Homo sapiens: one gene and its partner. The protein of the gene in region 1 interacts with the protein of each later gene in a pairwise test. Each region holds a gene or a part of one and is shown in the gene's direction. Other genes may lie near its edges. The genes, in order: IPO11 and PLCD4.

Evidence for each region.
Region 2: the proteins of IPO11 (region 1) and PLCD4 interact in a two-hybrid assay, tested with the Homo sapiens proteins (one large-scale study listed by BioGRID and IntAct).

What each region holds. Positions count from the first base shown.
Region 1 is NC_000005.10:62,482,118-62,485,939, forward strand, and holds part of IPO11 (importin-11), read left to right. Parts: intron 1-983; coding exon 984-1,176; intron 1,177-1,892; coding exon 1,893-2,045; intron 2,046-3,301; coding exon 3,302-3,345; intron 3,346-3,822. UniProt on the Homo sapiens protein: Functions in nuclear protein import as nuclear transport receptor. Serves as receptor for nuclear localization signals (NLS) in cargo substrates.
Region 2 is NC_000002.12:218,614,105-218,617,926, forward strand, and holds part of PLCD4 (1-phosphatidylinositol 4,5-bisphosphate phosphodiesterase delta-4), read left to right. Parts: intron 1-1,602; 5' UTR 1,603-1,635; coding exon 1,636-1,657; intron 1,658-1,799; coding exon 1,800-1,958; intron 1,959-3,822. UniProt on the Homo sapiens protein: Hydrolyzes the phosphatidylinositol 4,5-bisphosphate (PIP2) to generate 2 second messenger molecules diacylglycerol (DAG) and inositol 1,4,5-trisphosphate (IP3).

The sequences.
Region 1 (3,822 bases):
GTGGGATTGGTGGTGATACTCCTTATCATTTTTTATTGTGTCTGTTTGATTCTTCTCTTTTCTTCTTTATTAGTCTTGCTAGTGGTCTGTCACTTTTGTTGATCTTTTCAAAAAACCAGCTCCTGGATTCATTGATTTTTTGAAGGGTTTTTTTGTGTCTCTGTCTCCTTCAGTTCTGCTCTGATCTTAGTTACTTCTTGCCTTCTGCTAGCTTTGGAATGTGTTTGCTCTTCCTTCTCTAGTTCTTTTAATTGTAATGTAAGGGTGTTGATTTTAGATCTTTCCTGCTTTCTCTTGTGGACATTTAGTGCTATAAATTTCCCTCTACACACTGCTTTAAATGTGTCCCAGAGACTCTGGTACATTGTGTCTTTGTTCTCATTGGTTTCTTTTTCTGTGGCTAAGATTGATGAGTGATCTATCAAATTTCCTCAGCAGCTTTTCTCTTATTTTAACAGCTGTTGATCATCATTTGCCTAGATCCATTATTTGATCAGGAGTTACACAATGATGGCATTCTAATTCTGTTATTCCTTTTGCATTTATTAGCTGAAATTCTTCTATAAAGAAGACATCTCCCTCCTTAGCTATTTGATAACATTAAAATATAATTCATATGGGAAAGGGAAGATAATATTTAAATTCTTTACCTTAGTCTATTACTTTTAAAGGTCTATTGTATATTTAAGCGTTTTGTATCATATTCACCCATTGTTATAAAATTAAGTATGAATTGAGTCTGTTTTGGTTTCTGTATTGAAAATAATAGAAAGTTCTTATTATCAGATATAATCTAACATAATCCTCATTATATGATGTGCCTCAAGAAGAGTTATGATAATGTAAAACTGAGTGAACATAGACTCCACACTAAGGTTCAAACTGCTAAATGATTATTAGTAAAGTTATAATTGGAGTGATTATATTCCAATATGAATTTGGGGAAAATACATTTTAATTTTTATTTATTTATTTTTCTACAGCTTTTGGACTTCTTGGATCAGCATCCTTTTTCATTTACTCCTCTAATTCAGAGATCACTGGAATTTTCTGTAAGCTATGTTTTTACAGAAGTTGGTGAAGGCGTTACATTTGAACGATTCATTGTCCAATGTATGAATCTTATTAAGATGATTGTCAAAAATTATGCTTATAAGCCATCCAAAAATTTTGAAGGTAATTCCTTTATTGGCAGTTTAAAAGAATTATTTTAATCTTAAGTGTGATATAATTGCTATAATTACAAACTTTTTAAAAAATGTCATTTTAGTCTGAAAAATAAATTGTTGCTGGGACATGAAAAAGATATAAGGATTATAGGCTTTAGTATGTTTATACTAGCTTTTAAAAACAACATAGTGCATTTAATAAGCCATTTTTTGTAGCACAAATTGGTTGAAGCTTAGGGACTTTAAGAATTAGGTACTATAGTCATCACTGCAGCTCATATTGTAGGGTGTATTCATTTGAACAAATAAAAGCTTTCTCTGACTTTATATAAAGTGTGATTGTTTCTAGACAGGTTAAATTGTTGTATTATTTGGAATTCATTCATATGCGTGTGTGCCAAGATGAATGAAGAAGTCTTGGTGGTGGGGGAGAGAGAAACACATGCACACACCCCCCACACCCTCTACATTATGAGGAAGTTATTTCAGTATGCCGTGATGGTATTGCATGGTAATATATAAGCTGTAATGCCAGAGGCAAGATTGATGTGAGTGTGTTGTAAGGAAAGAGTATCTTTGAGATTTGTTTATAATAAAAATGAAAATTTATACACAAGTGTATCTTCTTCCCTGAGAGTGTATTTTTTATTTATTTAAGTTACATAATCCAATGTAGCTACAATGTTTGGCTATACAATTAACTTGGAAATTTCATTTTTCTAGATAGCAGCCCTGAAACTCTTGAAGCCCATAAGATTAAGATGGCATTCTTCACATATCCTACTTTGACAGAGATATGTAGAAGATTAGTCTCTCATTATTTCCTATTAACTGAAGAAGAACTGACAATGTGGGAAGAAGACCCAGAAGGCTTTAGTAAGAATTAATTTTTTAGTGTTAGAATGACTTTTCTCCCCTTTCTATAAATATCTGTTTGAGTGATAGGTATAATATTGTATTTTCATACAGCACTTTTGATCTGGAAATCTTGGTGTTTTAAAATTAACTTACTCTTTCGTTGTTATCCATTAGAACAAATTGAGAAGCAGAAAATGAATGACTTATGCAAATATGTTGTAGAATTTTGTCCAGGAAAAGACCTTTTTAGTTTTTGGATTCCTTTACAAATATATCATGTAGTTTCAAACAAAAATATAAAATTAACTCTCTCTTACCCTGTCAGTTTCTATTTTGTGATTCATTCCATGTTATTTTTTATTTGTAGAAATTCTTGCAAAGAAATTTGGAGGTTTTTGATGAATAGTTTTTTTTTTTTTTTTGGACAGGACATCTTTATATCTGTTTGAATTTTAGTACTAGATAGATAAGTAGAATAAGTCTGTTGGGACCCTTGCTATAGAAAATCAAGGAATCATGTGTCTAATAAAGTACTTACTTGTATGTGAATTACTTAAGCTATGGTGGGACATAGGCTAGATTTTAGCCTCCCTTTTCTCTTTGGTTGTGTACCCTTGTGTAGTTACACGTTTCCTAATATTTTAAGAGTGCCCAAAAGTTTTTGTAATACTTATCTTCGCCATGCTTTTGGTTTTTAAAAGTAATTTTAGTTTTAATACAGGATTGTACTGTACAACATGTCTTTTCTTGTTTTTTTTTTTGCTTTTTTTGAAACATCTTTTTTCAATTTGCTTTCTTTATATAGTACATACAACATTGTAACATAAAGTGTTGAGTCCCTAAATTTTTAAGAGCCCTGAAGTATTTTTCTTTAAATTCAAGAAATTTATGGAGAGTGTGAGTAATCATTGTACCTAGTGAAACATGATTACTGTATTGAAATGAAATGATTCTCAGAATTCTAGTGATATTGGATCAGGTGATAGCAGATACCCTGGAAATGACAACTACTTTGAGCTTTTTTCCATAAAGAATTTTTATCGAAAATGAGAATGCTTATGGATATAGTAAGCACTTAATAGACGACTGTGAGATACACAACTGTGATCTGTAGCATATAGTAACAAAATCTGTGTAAGGCCTGTGTTCCCAAGGCTTTGCTCTTAATGTTATGTTTAAAAGAGTTCACAAAAATATTATACTGATGTTATTAAAATCTTTGTTTTCTAAACCAAGATGTTGAAAATGTCATTATTACATATTTTTAATTGCAGCAGTGGAAGAAACAGGAGGAGATTCTTGGAAATATAGTTTGAGGGTAAGTATTAATTGCAAGAAAAATTGATAGGGGAAAGCTTAATCTTTCTAAAGCTCTTAGTAGAGAATGACACTCTATTAAAGATTCCAGACATTTGCTGGGCATGGTGGCTCACACTTTAATCCTAGCACTTTGGGAAGCCAAGGTGGGAGGATCGCTTGAGGCCAGAAATTCAAGACCGGCCTGGTAAACATAGTGAGACCCTGTCTCTGCAAAAAGTAAAAAAAGGAAAAAAAAATTAGACCAGAGTGGTGGCGCATACCTGTAGTCCCAACTCTTCAGGAATCTGAGGCAGGAGGATTGTTTGAGCCCAGGAGGTTGAGGCTGCCGTGTGCCATGATGATGCCACTGCGTTCTAGCCTGGATTACAAAGCAAAACCCGTCTCTTAAAAAAAAAAAAAAAAAAATTAAAGATTCCCAACATTAAGTCAGACAGATAAGAAACTGTTTATAAGAAACTAAGAACTATATTCATAT
Region 2 (3,822 bases), on another chromosome or scaffold:
TGCCTCCCAGGTTCACACGACTCTCCTGCCTCAGCCTCCTGAGTAGCTGGGATTACAGGTGCACACAACCACACCCGGCTAATTTTTTGTATTTTTAGTAGAGACGGGGTTTCACTATGTTGGCCAGGCTGGTCTTGAACTTCTGACTTCATGGTCCGCCCGCCTTGGCCTCCCAAAGTGCTGGGATTACAGGCTTGAGCCACCGCGCCCAGCCTTTTGTATTTTTTTAGTAGAGACAGGGTTTCACTGTGTTAGCCAGGATGGTCTCAATCTCCTGACCTCGTGATCCACCCACCTCGGCCTCCCAAAGTGCTGGGATTACAGGTGTGAGCCACCGTGCCCAGCCTTTTTCCTCTTTTTATTGAGACAGAGTCTCGCTGTGTCGCCCAGGCTGGAGTGCATGGCACAATCTTGGCTCACTGCCAACCTCTGCCACCCAGGTTCAAGCGATTCTCCTGCCTCAGCCTCCCAAGTAGCTGGGATTACAGGTGCTTGCCACCATGCCCAGCTAATTTTTTTGTATTACTAGTGAGACGGGGTTTTGCCATGTTGGCCAGGCAGGTCTCAAACTCCTGACCTCTGGTGATCCGCCAGCCTCGGCCTCCCAAATTGCTGGGATTACAGGCGTGAGCCACCGCACCCAGCCAACAGCCTATATCTTAAAAGAGGTACCCTTTTTTGGTAGGTAGAGAAAATTTGAAAATGTAGTTCTGAGACTTGTGTAACTTATTTGGTCCATTAAAACTGTGAGAATAACTATAAAGGAAAGGTATAAAATATGCTTTACCATGTGAAGGTAGAAGAAGACAACTAAGTATTGTTAAAGAGAAAAAAGAAAGTCTGGCCGGGTGCAGTGGCTCACGCCTGTAATCCCAGCACTTTGGGAGGCCGAGGTGGGCGGATCACGAGGTCAGGAGATTGAGACCATCCTGGCTAACACAGTGAAAACCTGTCTGTACTAAAAATACAAAAAATTAGCCGGGTGTGGTGGCACATGCCTGTAGTCCCAGCTACTCGGGAGGCCGAGGCAGGAGAATCGCTTGAACTGGGAGTTGCAGTGAGCTGAGATTGCACCACTGCACTCCAGCCTGGGTGACAGAGCGACACTCCGTATCAAAAAAAAGAAAAAGAAAAAGAAAGTCTGCACTAGCCCCTCAGGAGCTGGACAGTCTATGTGGGAGCATAGATAGAGAGGACTCCCAGAATAGGGAAGCTGAAAGGATTCCACCTGGAAATGAGAAGGCTAGGGTGTGAAGAGATTCTAGTTTCTGAAAGGGACATCCAGCAAGATGTTAGTTCCTAATAATGAGAGGGTGGGGAGTGAGCAAAATGTGGCACTAGTAGACTGTGGGTTATTGGGTAGGAAGGGGGTGCTGGGCGGAATCTTTGGTTTACCCTTCTCTGAAGATAGCCATGGGAAATAGCAGAGGCTCTGGGATCAGACATATCTTGGTTTAAATTCTGATCCTTATGTGATTTGAGGCAGGTTTCTAAACCTATCTAAAGTGTCAGAGTCACTAAACTCAAAATTAGAAGCAAAAATCAGCTACAGACTATCTTCAAGATTCACCCAGAGCCCTTTGCTCTTCCTTGCTCCTTTAGGTGATCTGGTGCCAGCTGGTGGAACAGTGGGTGATGGCGTCCCTGCTGCAAGACCGTGAGTGCCGGGGCCCCTGCAGGGGAAGAGGCCTTAGTGTACAGCTCAGGGAAGGGAAGGAGGTTGGACCCCTGTTCCAGAGCTCTCCCTGGGCCTGCTACCCTCTCTGCTGGCTACCTAACCCCTGCTTTTCCTGACCTAGAGCTGACCACTGATCAGGACTTGCTGCTGATGCAGGAAGGCATGCCGATGCGCAAGGTGAGGTCCAAAAGCTGGAAGAAGCTAAGATACTTCAGACTTCAGAATGACGGCATGACAGTCTGGCATGCACGGCAGGCCAGGGGCAGTGCCAAGCCCAGCTGTGAGTGACCTGGATAGTGGGGGGTGGATACATGGGTGGATAGAGGCCTGAGGAGCCCGGCAGGGGAGGGACCAAAGTCCTACGATAGTGTGTGTTTGTGCTGTCCTAATTGTGGCTATATCTGAGCCTGTAAAAGGAGATCATAACAGTACTTGCCTCATAAGGCTGTTATGAGGATTAAATTAGTTATTGTATATAAAAGGCTTAGAAGAGTCCTGGAACATAGTAAGATGTAATAAATCATTGGTTACATCTTGTTGTTATTATAATAAGACCATGATCTTGGGCATCAGCCTGCCTGAATTAAAGCCCTGGCTCTGCCACTTTCTAACTGAGTAGCTGTGGAAAATCAAGTAGTTAAGCTATGGCTGGGCATGGTGGCTCAATGCCTGTAATCCCAGCAATTTGGGAGGTTGAGGCAGGAGAATTTCTTGAGACCAGAAGTTCAAGACCAGCCTGGACAACATAGGGAGATCCTGTCTCTATAAAAAATAAAAATAAAAAATTAGCTGGGTGTGGTGCTGTACGCCTGTGGTCTCAGCTATTTGGGAGGCTAAGATGGGAGGATCACTTGAGTCCAGGAAGTTGAGACTGCAGTGAGCTGTGATCACACCACTGCACTCCGCCTGGGTGAGTGAGACCCTGTCTCTACAAAAATACATATATACATACATACATACATACATACATACATCAAGCTTCAGTTTCCTCATCTGTAAAACAGGGATTAAACAGTACCTGCTTAGTAGGCTACAAGGACTCAATGAGTTAACATGTAAAACACTTAGCATGGGATGTAAAACCAGAATGCATTTAATGAATGTTAGCCATTATTTTATATATATATATATATATATATATATATAGAGAGAGAGAGAGAGAGAGAGAGAGAGAGAGAGAGAGAGAGAGAGAGAGAGAGAGAGATGGAGTCTCGCTCTGTTGCCCAGGCTGGAGTGCAGTGGCGTGATCTCAGCTCACTGCAAGCTCCGCCTTCCGGGTTCACGCCATTCTCTTGCCTCAGCCTTCTGAGTGGCTGGGACTACAGGCACCCGCCACCACGCCCGGCTAATTTTTCGCATTTTTAGTAGAGGCGGGGTTTCACTGTGTTGGCCAGGATGGTCTCCATCTCCTGACCCCGTGATCCGCCTGCCTCGGCCTCCCAAAGTGCTGGGATTACAGGCGTGAGCCACTGCACCCGGCCTATAATAAATATTTTTAAATACAAAAAATGCGGCTGGGTGTGGTGGATCATGCCTGTAATCCCAGCACTTTGGGAGGCCGAGGCAGGCAGATCACTTGAGATCAGGAGTTTGAGACCAGCCTGGCCAACATGGTGAAACCCCATCTCTACTAGAAATACAAAAATTAGCCGGGCTTGGTGGCGCGCACCTGTAGTCCCAGCTACTCGGAAGGCTGAGGCAGGAGAATCGCTTGAACCTGGAAGGCAGAGGTTACAGTGAGCTGAGATTGTGCCATTGCACTCCAGCCTGGGTGACAAGAGCAAAACTTGGTCTCAAAAAACAAAATAAAACAAAAAAAAAATCATAACAGTGTGCACTTATTGGCCAAACTCTTTATGATAACAAGACATAATTTGATCACAGGACACATCTAAGAGAGTCTGTTTTACAGACAAATTGCTCACAATCCATACCGCCCCCAGCTGAGGTAAGAGGGTGAAAGAATTTCTCTGGTTCCCTCGTAGACATCTGGAAAGAGGAAGCCCTCAAACCTGGAATGGGGGCCAGGCGTGGTGGCTCACGCCTGTAATCCCAGCACTTTGGGAGGCCTAGGCGGGTGGATCACGAGGTCAGGAGATTGAGACCATCTGGCTAACACAGTGAAACCCCATCCCTACTAAAAA